3 linked regions of the Homo sapiens genome follow. The protein of the gene in region 2 interacts with the protein of the main gene of each other region in a biochemical or structural test. Each region holds a gene or a part of one and is shown on either strand. Other genes may lie near its edges. The genes, in order: PTPRJ, TEK and PTPRG.

Region 1 (3,730 bases), on a different chromosome or scaffold from region 2:
TCAACTATACCAGGTTAAACAAATGGACAAGTCATGGAAAAGACACAGCTCTGTTTGGACATTAATAAGGGCGGGTGTGGAAGCTGGAAAGCTGAGATGCCGGAAGGCTCAGTGCTTAGTAGGCCCGGAAAAGCAATTTTTGAACTGGCATCTCATTCCCCTTTTCTAAGACAGGAAGGACGGTCAGAGATGATTCCAACATGAGGACTTTGCTAGTTGCAGTGTCTGACTCCTCCCATTCTCATAGCAGTTTTGCACAGTAGTTTTGGTTTGTGTGTATGTTTTAGGCAATGTGACAAAGCAGTTTTCCTCCTGCCTCCTTGAGAAATTTAATCCTGACAGGTTCTTTAAGAAATCAGCTTGATGTGGGCTGATTTTAAAAGAATAAATGAAAAAAAAAAGCTGGTGACTGATAGCTGTTTTATTGGTCTTGTAGTGTTTTGGTTTTGTTTTATCTTCACTTTCTTGTTTCCTGGTGAATAATAACTGGGTTTATTATCTCTCATGGCTAATCCTTAAGCCTGATTCCTTACCTGTTCCATCCAGAGTACAAAGTATATTTTGACTCCTCTTTAAACTGCTTGTTAGATTCTCATATGAGTGACTTTAAATATTTTTGTTTTGCTTCAGGACAACGGGAAAACCAAACGATTATGTTTTGTTTGCAGACAGTTTACGAAAACAGCAAATTGGTTTATGGTTAGACCGTGACTTTGAGCTGACTTCAAGTTGGGCCCCACGATAAAGATAACCATGGAATACCCAAGCTTTCCTAAGCAGAGAGGATCCTGGCTTCCAAATGAGCAATTTTGGTCAGCAAAGGGGTTATTTAGCTCCTAAAAGTAATTTTTGCTTGAGGTTGGGGCTGAGGCAGAGTGGCTGAACAACCGTAGGCCTGGGTGTAGCCAGAGGATCATCAGTAATTACTTCTCAGTTCATTCACTTCTTGGGCTAGGGAATTATTTTGAGTGCAGGATAAGAGGCAATTTTCTGTGTGTTTCCCTTCTAATATAATGCCACTGATGATATTATAATTAATAGGTAACATTATGCATGACAGGCACTGTGTGCTAAGGGTTTTAATGCATTATTTCATTTGGCCATTTCAGAAATACCAAGAGGTAGGTGCTGTTCTTGTTTATTTGTTTGTTTTTTTTTTTGATAGGGAGTCCCACTCTGTCACCCAGGCTGGAGTGCAATGGTGCAATCTTGGCTCACCGCAACCTCCACCTCCTGGGTTCAAGTGATTCTCTTACCTCAGCCTCCCGAGTAGCTGGGATTACAGGCGTATGCCGCCATACCTGGCTACTTTTTGTATTTTTAGTAGAGATGGGGTTTCACCATGTTGGCCAGGCTGGTCTTGAACTCCTGACCGTAGGTGATCTGCCTGCCTTGGCCTCACAAAGTGCAGGGATTATAGGCGTGAGCCACTGTGCCCGGCCTTTTTTTTTTTTTGAGATGAAGTCTAGCTCTGTTGCCAGGCTGGAGTACGGTGGTGTGATCTTGGTTCACTGCAACCTCCGCCTCCTGGGTTCCAGGGATTCTCCTGCCTCAGCCTCCCAAGTACCTGGGATTACAGGCACGTGCCGCCATGCCCAGTTAATTTTTGGATTTTTATTAGAGACAGGGTTTCAGCATGTTGGCCAGGATGGTCTTGATCTCCTGACCTCATGATCTGCCCACCTCGGCCTCCCAAAGTGTTGGGATTACAGGCGTGAGCCACCGTGCCCGGCCTGTTTTTGTTTTTAAGAGACAGGGTCTTGCTTTGTCACCCAGGCTGGAGTGCAGTGGTACAAACGTAATTCACTGCAATCTCAACCTCCTGGGCTCAAGGGCTCCTCTCGTTTTAGCCTCTCAAGTATCTGGGACTAAAGGCGTGTGCTACCATTCCTGGCTAATTTTTTTTTTTAATAGAGATGGTGTCTCGCTATGTTGCCCAGTCTGGTCTTGAACCTCTGGGCTCAAGTGATCTGCCCACCTTGGCTCCCCAAAGTGTTGGGATTACAGGCATGAACCACTGCACCCAGCCATGTTTTTATTTTATCTGAGAGAAAACTGAGGTTCAGAACTTAACTGTATACTTCTGGAATCTTCACAGAGAAATAAAAAAAAAGAAAAATAATTTACTATAGATTCATTAACTACTACGTGGCGGAGCCAGGGCTGATGTCTCCACTGCCCCAATTTACCATCCTGTGCTGTAAAAAGTCATGGAGAAGGTTTTCTGTGTGCAGCTAAGAGAGGAGGTGGCAGACATTTATTTATTTATTTATTTATTTATTTATTTATTTATTTATTTATTGAGACGAAGTCTCACTCTGTTGCCTGGGCTGGAGTGCTGTGGCACGATCTCGGCTCACTGCAACCTCCATCTCCCGGGTTCAAGCGATTCTCCTGCCTCAGCCTGCTGAGTAGCTGGGATTACAGACGTGCGCTACCATGCGCAGCTAATTTTTGTATTTTTAGTAGAGATGAGGTTTCGCCATGTTGACCAGGCTGGTCTTGAACTCCCAACCTCAGGTGATCCGCCCACCTCGGCCTCCCAAAGTGCTGGGATTACAGGCCTGAGCCACCGCACCTGGCCCAGACATTTTTTAGACAGTCTTGCTGTGTTGCCCAGGCTGGACTCGAACTCCTGGGTCCAGTTGACATCCCTCTTCATCCTTCCAAGTAGCCAGGACTGCAGGGACATGCTACCTTTATTTTGGGTTCTTTGTGTCCTAAACCCTGTATGATCTGCTCCATTTGTAACACAGAGAACCCAGGTGCCCTCTTTCCTGCTTATATTTCTTTGGGGCCTCAGTTTACAAGGCAAGTCTGCCTTTGTGGAGATAGACTGGGGTCTGGGATGGAAAGACCTGGGTTTGGGTCTTTGCTCTGCCACTGCATAAACTCAGCAAGTCACTTAACCTCTGTGACTTCTCATTTCCTTATCTGGAAAATGGGACTAACACTTCCTGCTTCACTGGGTGGTTGAGAGGATCAAATAAGATAGAAAAGGAATTGCTACGTAACACCTAAAGCAAGGCCCAACTGCTAGTTGTGGCTGCTGCTGTTACTTGGAGAGAAGAAATGAGGCCCCAGATCATTAGTTCATATGACAATTTTTTCTTTTTTTAAGACGGAGTCTCACTCTGTTGCTTAGGCTGGAGTGCAGTGGCGTGATCTCCACTTACTGCAACCTCCGCCTCCCGGGTTCAAGCAATTCTACTGCCTTAGTCTCCTGAGTAGCTGGGACTACAGGCACGCTCCGTCATGTCTGGCTAGTTTTTGTATTTTAGTTGAGACGGGGTTTCACCACATTGGCCAGGCTGGTCTTTAACTCCTGACCTCAGGTGATCCACCTGCCTTGGCCTCCCAAAGTGCTGGGATTACAGTCTGAGCCACCACGCCTGGCCCATATGACAAATATTTATGAAGTGTTTTCCACAGAGTAGTATGGAATAACTCTGGGTGTGTGCAAGATGAACTGAGCTCAGTCACAATACTTTTTTTTCCCCTAATGTTAAGAATTATTGGCTGGGCAGGGTGACTCATTCCTTTAATCTCAGCACTTTGGAAGGCAGAGGTGGGAGGATCAGGTGAGCCCAGGAGTTTGAGACCAGCCTGGATGACAAAGTGAGACCTTGTCTATACAAAAAATTAGCTGGGCATGGTGGTGTGGACCTGTGGTCCCACCTACTTGAGAGGCTGAGTTGGGAGGATGGCTTGAGCCCTGGGAGGTTGAAGC
Region 2 (3,730 bases):
CCCAAAACCACATGAAGAAATGCTGTTACCTTCATTTTCTAGGAACTAACCTGAGGTGACCATGAAACACTAGTTCGAAGGCAGCACAGTGAGGTGTTTTAAAGAGCCCAGGATTCGGGTTCAGGTCATTTTTCAGTGTAACTCTTGTCTCCATCATTTCCTACTGAGACATGTGGTCAGTCAGGATGATTCACTTCCAAGGGATAGAAGCTAACTCAAAATAGCTTAAACAAATAAAAGAAACTAGCTCACAGAACTGAAAGAGGCAGGGCTGCGTGTTTGAAAATCCTTGGACCCACGTCTCAAATGCTATCAGAGTGCCTGTCTTGGTCCATCTTTTGTTATTGGCCTCATTCTCTCGTACTAAAGACTAGCTTCCTTCAAGTGGTCAGCGAAGTTGGTAGCTCCAGGGATACAGTGTCCTCTATGAAGAAAGAGAGGCTTTTGCTTTCAAAGTGCTCATAAATTCCCAGGGAAAGAGTCTAACTGGCCCTGTTGGGTTGTGCATCTTCTGTTTGAACCAACTGCTGTTGTTAGTTGGCTGGGACATTCTGTGACCAGTGATTGGCAGACCCATCAGAATCACCTAGAGGGAAAGCACGGCAGTTCTTGAAAGTTTGAAATGTTAGGCATCCAAAATAATGGATGGCCGCCATTTTCCGGTTTGTTGTTGTTAAGATGAGGTCTCACTATGTCACTCAGGCTGGAATGCAGCGGCATGATCACGACATTCATGCAGCCTAAAACCCCCAGGCTAAAGCGATCCATCTATCTCAGCCTCCCGGGTTGCTGGGACCACAGGTGTGTGCCACCATACCCAGCCAATATTTGTATTATTTGTAGAGATGGGTCTCCCTATATTGCCCAGGATGGTCTCGAACTCCTTGGCTCAAGCAATCTGCTTGCTTTGGCCTCCCAAAGTGCTGGGATTACAAGCACGAGCCACCACACCTGGCTGGTCACTTACATTTTAACCTTGGACATGTCACTTAACCTTTGTGAGCCTTGGTTTCCCTGTCTATTAAAAAAATAATAATACCTATAGTGTAAAGTTGTGAAATATTAAAAATCATATTTAACACTTGGCACATAAAGGCATTCAACCTAGGGTAGTCATTTTTGTTATTACTGGTACTCTTATTGTTTTGTGGTTGTTTCTGACACAGGGATCAGAATTTGAAGCCCATCCCAGATTCCCAGATGTCTAAAGCACTCCTGTCCCCAGGGTGGAGTCCCCTTTGGCTCTGCAGCCAGACGCCTTGCACAACCCAGGCCCTGTGTGCCAAGGTTAAGCTGGTTCACCATCTGACGGCCGCAGAGCAGTGAGTGCCTCCCCAGCCCCAGCAATGTCAATACTGCCTTCCTGACTCCGCCTATTGTATCTGGAGGAAAGTGGCCGAGCATTGTCTTCCAGTGCTCCCCCCAGGAAGCATGATATCACCCTTTAACAAAAGCGGGAAAGCTGACAGATCTGCTGAGATGGGTGTGACCAGCACATACACCTCACTGGTCAAGCCCTGGGCAAGGGGCTGTGACAAGCAGAGAGCAAATGACAGCCGCCCACGATGCCCTTCAAACCCCACGCCTGACTGGCTTCTTTGGCTAGTCCAAATTTTCTCCCTCTCTTTGTCACACTCATACCACATTAGACATGAAACCACCAAGCAATGGGTATGTACTTCCTCTAATATGCAGATGTGTTGAAAAGTGTCAGGACTCTGCATCTGGCACATCCACGTCTTCACACCTGCTCCTGCAGCCTTTGGGAAGGAGCAGGAGAGAAGAATGATCAGATTCCTGAAGGCACACAAGGGGACAATGGGGGTGGGGCTGGGGGAAGAGGTCACAGCTAGATCTAAAACTCATTCTGCAGGTGTAACACGAGTTAAGGAATCGTCTGGCCAGATGGGTAAGAATAGGGTTATCAGTTCAAAATTCCAAAAATAAGGGAGGCAACTTTAGACATTCCCTTTCCTGAAAGCCAGGAGTGAAGCCAGCTGCTCTCTTCCAGCTCTGGTTTGGTGATGCTGCCGGTGCAGCTGGCTCTCTGTAAAATAACACACCTGCAGGCTGGTGCTCCAGTGTCAGGCCCGGAGGCTGTTACTCTGCTGCCCCATCTTACTGTCTTCTTAAAATTCTCTTTCCGGCCGGGCGCAGTGGCTCACGCCTGTAATCCCAGCATTTTGGGAGGCCGAGGCAGGCGGATCACTAGGTCAGGAGATCGAGACCATCCTGGCTAACACAGTGAAACCACGTCTCTACTAAAAATTAAAAAAAAAAATTAGCTGGGCGTGGTGGCAGGCGCCTGTAGTCCCAGCTACTCGGGAGGCTGAGGCAGGAGAATGGTGTGAACCTGGGAAGCGGAGCTTGCAGTGAGCCGAGATCGCACCACTGCACTCCAGCCTGGGGGACTGAGCGAGACTCCGACTCAAAAAAAAAAAAAAAAAAAATTTCTTTCCATGGCTGCTACAGCAGCAATTCTCTAAAGTCCCAGGATAGGAATGTCATTGGTTTTGCTTCTCCTGTCAGCTCCTTACCTGTTTCTTCTTCATCAAATTTTTGGGTATCTGCTCTTTCTCGTTCCTTCATTTCAATCTTGAAATATAGCCATGCCCGTGGCTTCACTTACCATATACCAAAGATTTCTACATCTCAATCTCTTGCCCAATCCCCTTCCTCTGAGCTTCAGATGTGGGCAGCCAAATTTTGATAAATATCTTCCTTTATGGCCAGGTGCGGTGGCTCACGCCTGTAATCCCAGCACTTTGGGAGGCCAAGGCAGGTGGATCATGAGGTCAGGAGTTCAAGACATGGCCAACGTGGTGAAGCCCCGTCTCTACTAAAAGTACAAAAATTAGCCGGGTGTGGTGGCAGGTGCCTATAATCCCAGTTATTCAGGAGGCTGAGGTGGGAGAATCACTTGAACCGGGGAGGTGGAGCTTGCAGCGAGCCAAGATCGTGCCACTGCACTCCAGCCTGGGCGACACAGCAAGACTCAGTCTCAAAAAAAAAAACTTCCTTTACATGTAGCCTCAAAATCAACATGAACAAAATAATTATTTGCCTTATCCCAGCCCACCTCCATTCAGCACACTGAATGGCACCACCATTATCCAAATCAGAATGCTGGAGCAATGACTTATTCTCCTCCCTCCCTCTCAACCTTCCATATACAACCAATCACTAACTCCTGCAGTTTCACCTCCTAAATCTCTCTCAAGCCCCCTGTTATCCTCACAGTCCTCTTGCCTGGAATGTTAGGAAGCCAACTTGGTCCCAGCCTATGGTCTCTACCATGTTAATCCATCCTGAAAACTATTATTAGAGTGAATTTTTCAAGACATAAATCTGATATATGACATGATAGAACAAACACTCTGCTAAATTTCAACATGTACAGAATGAGGGACAACCTACTTAAAATGGCCTGTGAGGCCCTTCTTGATCTGACCCCAACTTTAATTCTCTACCTTCATCCTACATTACAGCTTCACTCAGCTTCCTTAAGCCTGCCCTGCTATTTTATACACACCCCCTTTGTATAGGTTGCTCCCTCTATGTCCTTTCTTCCCTTTTCCTTTTCATCTTGGTTTCAAAATCATTTGGCTATGAGCAAGTTATAACTATAACTGGACCTGACTTTTGGCAATATTCACAACTATTTAGGAGTTCTTGCAAAGACAGAAAAATCAACCTACAAGTTGTTTTCAAAATACTACTCATTTTCTTT
Region 3 (3,500 bases), on a different chromosome or scaffold from region 2:
TGGAGAAGAACACTGATCTCATATACTCCATTAGGATGGATGCCAGCCCCCAAAAAATAGGATTGACAAAATGGTTCAACCAAGCTACATAAACAGGAATAATAATCAAACTACTGGGCTGGTTACTTATAAAAGCCTTAGAACAATGTTAGTTCAGTTCAACAGAAATGTACTGAGAACTAGTTAAGTACTCCTTTATCTTCAAGAAACTTGATTAGCTCGTAATCAATAGCATTAAGCAATCTTTTTTAATGTAGACTCACGTAGGTCTTTTATGCCAGTGAGGATCACAGAAAAAAATTCACAGCAGCAGTGACATCACATAACAGAAGAATCCACATAGTTCTAGAAATATCTATTGCACACAGTACCTATTTCTACCTGATAGTAGAAATAAGAAAGATACAATCAAGGTCACTGAGAGAAGTACCACTAGGAAAGCACAAGAGTGTTCTCTGGGGCTGGGCATGGTAGATTACACCTGTAATCCCAGAGCAGCCTGGGAAACACAGGAAGACCCCAATTCTATAAACAATTTTAAAAATTAGCTGGTTGTGCTGATGCACCTGTGGTCCTAACTACTCAGGAGGCTGAGGTGGGAGGATCACAGTTAACTGAGCTACAATCATGCCACTGCACTCCAGCCTGGGCAAGAGAGCAAGACCCTGTGTCTTAAAAGGTTCTTTGTGGCACAGAAATGGTCTTGTTTATCAGTAATCTGATTGGGATTTTTGCCAAAGCATCAAGCAAATGCTATCAATTATATCTTTGAATGAAGACTAAAATGTTTTTTCTTTTTCAGCTGGTCACACAGTGTAATGCAAAATATGTGGAATGTTTCAGTGCTCAGAAAGAGTGTAACAAAGAAAAGAACAGAAACTCTTCAGTTGTGCCATGTAAGACTTTAAAACAGTTTGTTAGTGATCTTTTATACTGGATTGTATGTTAGGTACAGAGGCAGCCACTACTCTGATGCTATTGATAGCACCCTTCAATTGTACTGTACGTGGCCGTATGGTAGAAGGTTTTGAAAATGTCCTTTTAGTAACCTCATTAATGTATGACTTTATACCAGCCTCTTACCTGGTACTACCAAAAGGGAAAATGTTATGCTTATTCAACTAAGGTAGTTTAATGAAACTGGGAGAGGTGGTTGTCAGTGTCAGCAAGTGCTCCATCTATCTGACGTAGAATACAGCTTCATTTCACCTTGGAATGCAAGAATTGGGTTACTTCTACCATATTATAACATAAAAAATAATAATAAAGCTGTTATTGCTGTGGCATTAACATTCCTCTAAAACTTAGAATCCTGGATTAATCTGTACAACTAGAACTACCTTATTCAGTTACTGTGGCTATTGAGATCAAGGCACTGTTGATTGGTGGTGACCTTTGTATAAATAGCTAAGGACATTGCAGAGGATGCTGTCTGTGTGCTGTAGGCATAGACATGGGTGATCATTTGGGAGATTTATCTCTAATGAAAAAGGCCACTCTTTTCTAAGACCATCATGAGCAGAAAGACATGGAGAAAGGGGTTGGTAAAAGGACAAAGTATATGTTGGTATAATTGTAGGAATAACAAACTAGAGTCAAAAGTTATCTAAAATCCTCTGTTGTGTCCATATAAAGTATTCTGTTATTGATCTGCTGTAAAAATCTCTCCCACAGTAAAACTGTATTCCTACAATGCCTGTGTCCTTCTGGGTATGTGCAGCAAAATTTCATTTTACATTCTGCCTCAGCTGATAACACTTTAGCTTGTTTAAAAATATAGATAAGTCTTAGAAAGGGAAGCCAGGAGGATATGTTATTCATCAAGCAAATCTCAGAAAGAGCTGTTGGTTCTGTGTGTATAATAAGGCAAATGTGGTGTTTTTGTTTTTTCCATATGATAGCTGAGCGTGCTCGAGTGGGTCTTGCACCATTGCCTGGAATGAAAGGAACAGATTACATTAATGCTTCTTATATCATGGTGAGAGTCAACAGTTAATTATAAATAAAGTCAACTAAACTGAAAGGTGTTAAAGAGCAGATACCACCTGTGTGACTGATGTCATTTTTGAAATAATTTCTCAATGTGTAATATGAAAAGTATAGAGATTTCTGTATCTTGAAACTTTTAACAAAAGATACCTAATCAGTGCTGGTACAAAAATGCTTAAATTAAGCAGAATGCTTCTTAAGGAATTAATTTTATTGTTAATTTCACACATCTAGTCTTTGAATAAATGTTGAAATTTCCCTTAAGTGAAAACAGCAGGGTTAACTAGAAGTGAACTGCACATGGAGAGAAAATTGTCTGCACAGTGCTAGCAGAAGTACATCTAAAAATTAGCCAAATGTACCGAATGCCTTTCTCAATTATTTTAGTGTAGTCAAAACAGTGCTATCTTATTTCATGAATATATTTTACTACCACAAAGTTAGAATAAAACACTCATATTCACTGATTTTTTTTGTCTTCCCAACTGAAGGGCTATTATAGGAGCAATGAATTTATTATAACTCAGCATCCTCTGCCACATACTACGAAAGATTTCTGGCGAATGATTTGGGATCATAACGCACAGATCATTGTCATGCTGCCAGACAACCAGAGCTTGGTAAGTAAAGCACATCTGCTATATATTAATGAGCCCATGAGGCTACAAGCATAAATTACTTTGATACTTTGCCATAGGGCTATAGTATCCATATATGCTAGGGAGGGAATTTAAAATTTTTAAATTCTCATCTTGAAGTCTGTGGAGATTCCTTTCATAGTCTCACAATACTGTCCCTATCAGTTCCATTACTTGAGTCTCTGATGCTATTGATATCACCCTTCAATTGTACTGTCTGTGGCGGTGTGGTAGAAGGTTTTGAAAATGTTTTTAGTAACCTCATTAATATATGACTACACCAACCTCTTCCCTGCTGTATGTCACTTTTGAAAAGTAAATAATTGTAGCTTACAGGTACTGAGTATGTAACTGTGTTTACATGCATTAACTTGTTTAATTCTCAACAATTTTAAGACATACATACTATTATTATCTCATGTAATAGCTGAGAAAACTGAGAACAAACTTGCTCAAGAGAGCACACACAAGTAACTGGAGCCAGGATTTTAACCTGAGTCATCTGTCTCCAGAGACCATGCTTATATAATCATTTTACTGTATGTCTTACCCCAAAATATTGTATCAAAAGTACTAATAGTGAATTTTTTTTTCCCACTCCATAGGCAAGTCAGGTCTACTGCAGGGATAGGCTATTTTGTTCCCACTTAAAGGTCTTTAGGACTGAGCTGCTACTACTTTTCCCTCCCTTAGTCCTTCTCTATTTCAGTCTCTAAACTATACAGAAGGGTGAGCAAGTTTATAAAACAGACTTAAATGTTTCTGCTTAGATCTTGTGGATACTTAAGTTTCGGAATTAGCTGGGTCTATAAAAGTTACTGTGTGGACATGTGAACCCATGAGGTAAAAACAAAAAACAGTGAGGATCTGCCT

What was found.
Region 1: of the proteins of TEK (region 2) and PTPRJ, one has a biochemical effect on the other in vitro, tested with the Homo sapiens proteins (one large-scale study listed by IntAct).
Region 3: of the proteins of TEK (region 2) and PTPRG, one has a biochemical effect on the other in vitro, tested with the Homo sapiens proteins (one large-scale study listed by IntAct).

Annotation. Positions count from the first base shown.
Region 1 is NC_000011.10:47,983,417-47,987,146, forward strand, and holds part of PTPRJ (receptor-type tyrosine-protein phosphatase eta isoform 1 precursor), read left to right. Parts: intron 1-3,730. UniProt on the Homo sapiens protein: Tyrosine phosphatase which dephosphorylates or contributes to the dephosphorylation of CTNND1, FLT3, PDGFRB, MET, KDR, LYN, SRC, MAPK1, MAPK3, EGFR, TJP1, OCLN, PIK3R1 and PIK3R2. Plays a role in cell adhesion, migration, proliferation and differentiation.
Region 2 is NC_000009.12:27,115,580-27,119,309, reverse strand, and holds part of TEK (angiopoietin-1 receptor isoform 1 precursor), read right to left. Parts: intron 1-3,730. UniProt on the Homo sapiens protein: Tyrosine-protein kinase that acts as a cell-surface receptor for ANGPT1, ANGPT2 and ANGPT4 and regulates angiogenesis, endothelial cell survival, proliferation, migration, adhesion and cell spreading, reorganization of the actin cytoskeleton, but also maintenance of vascular quiescence.
Region 3 is NC_000003.12:62,275,071-62,278,570, forward strand, and holds part of PTPRG (receptor-type tyrosine-protein phosphatase gamma isoform 1 precursor), read left to right. Parts: intron 1-802; coding exon 803-896; intron 897-1,901; coding exon 1,902-1,978; intron 1,979-2,480; coding exon 2,481-2,609; intron 2,610-3,500.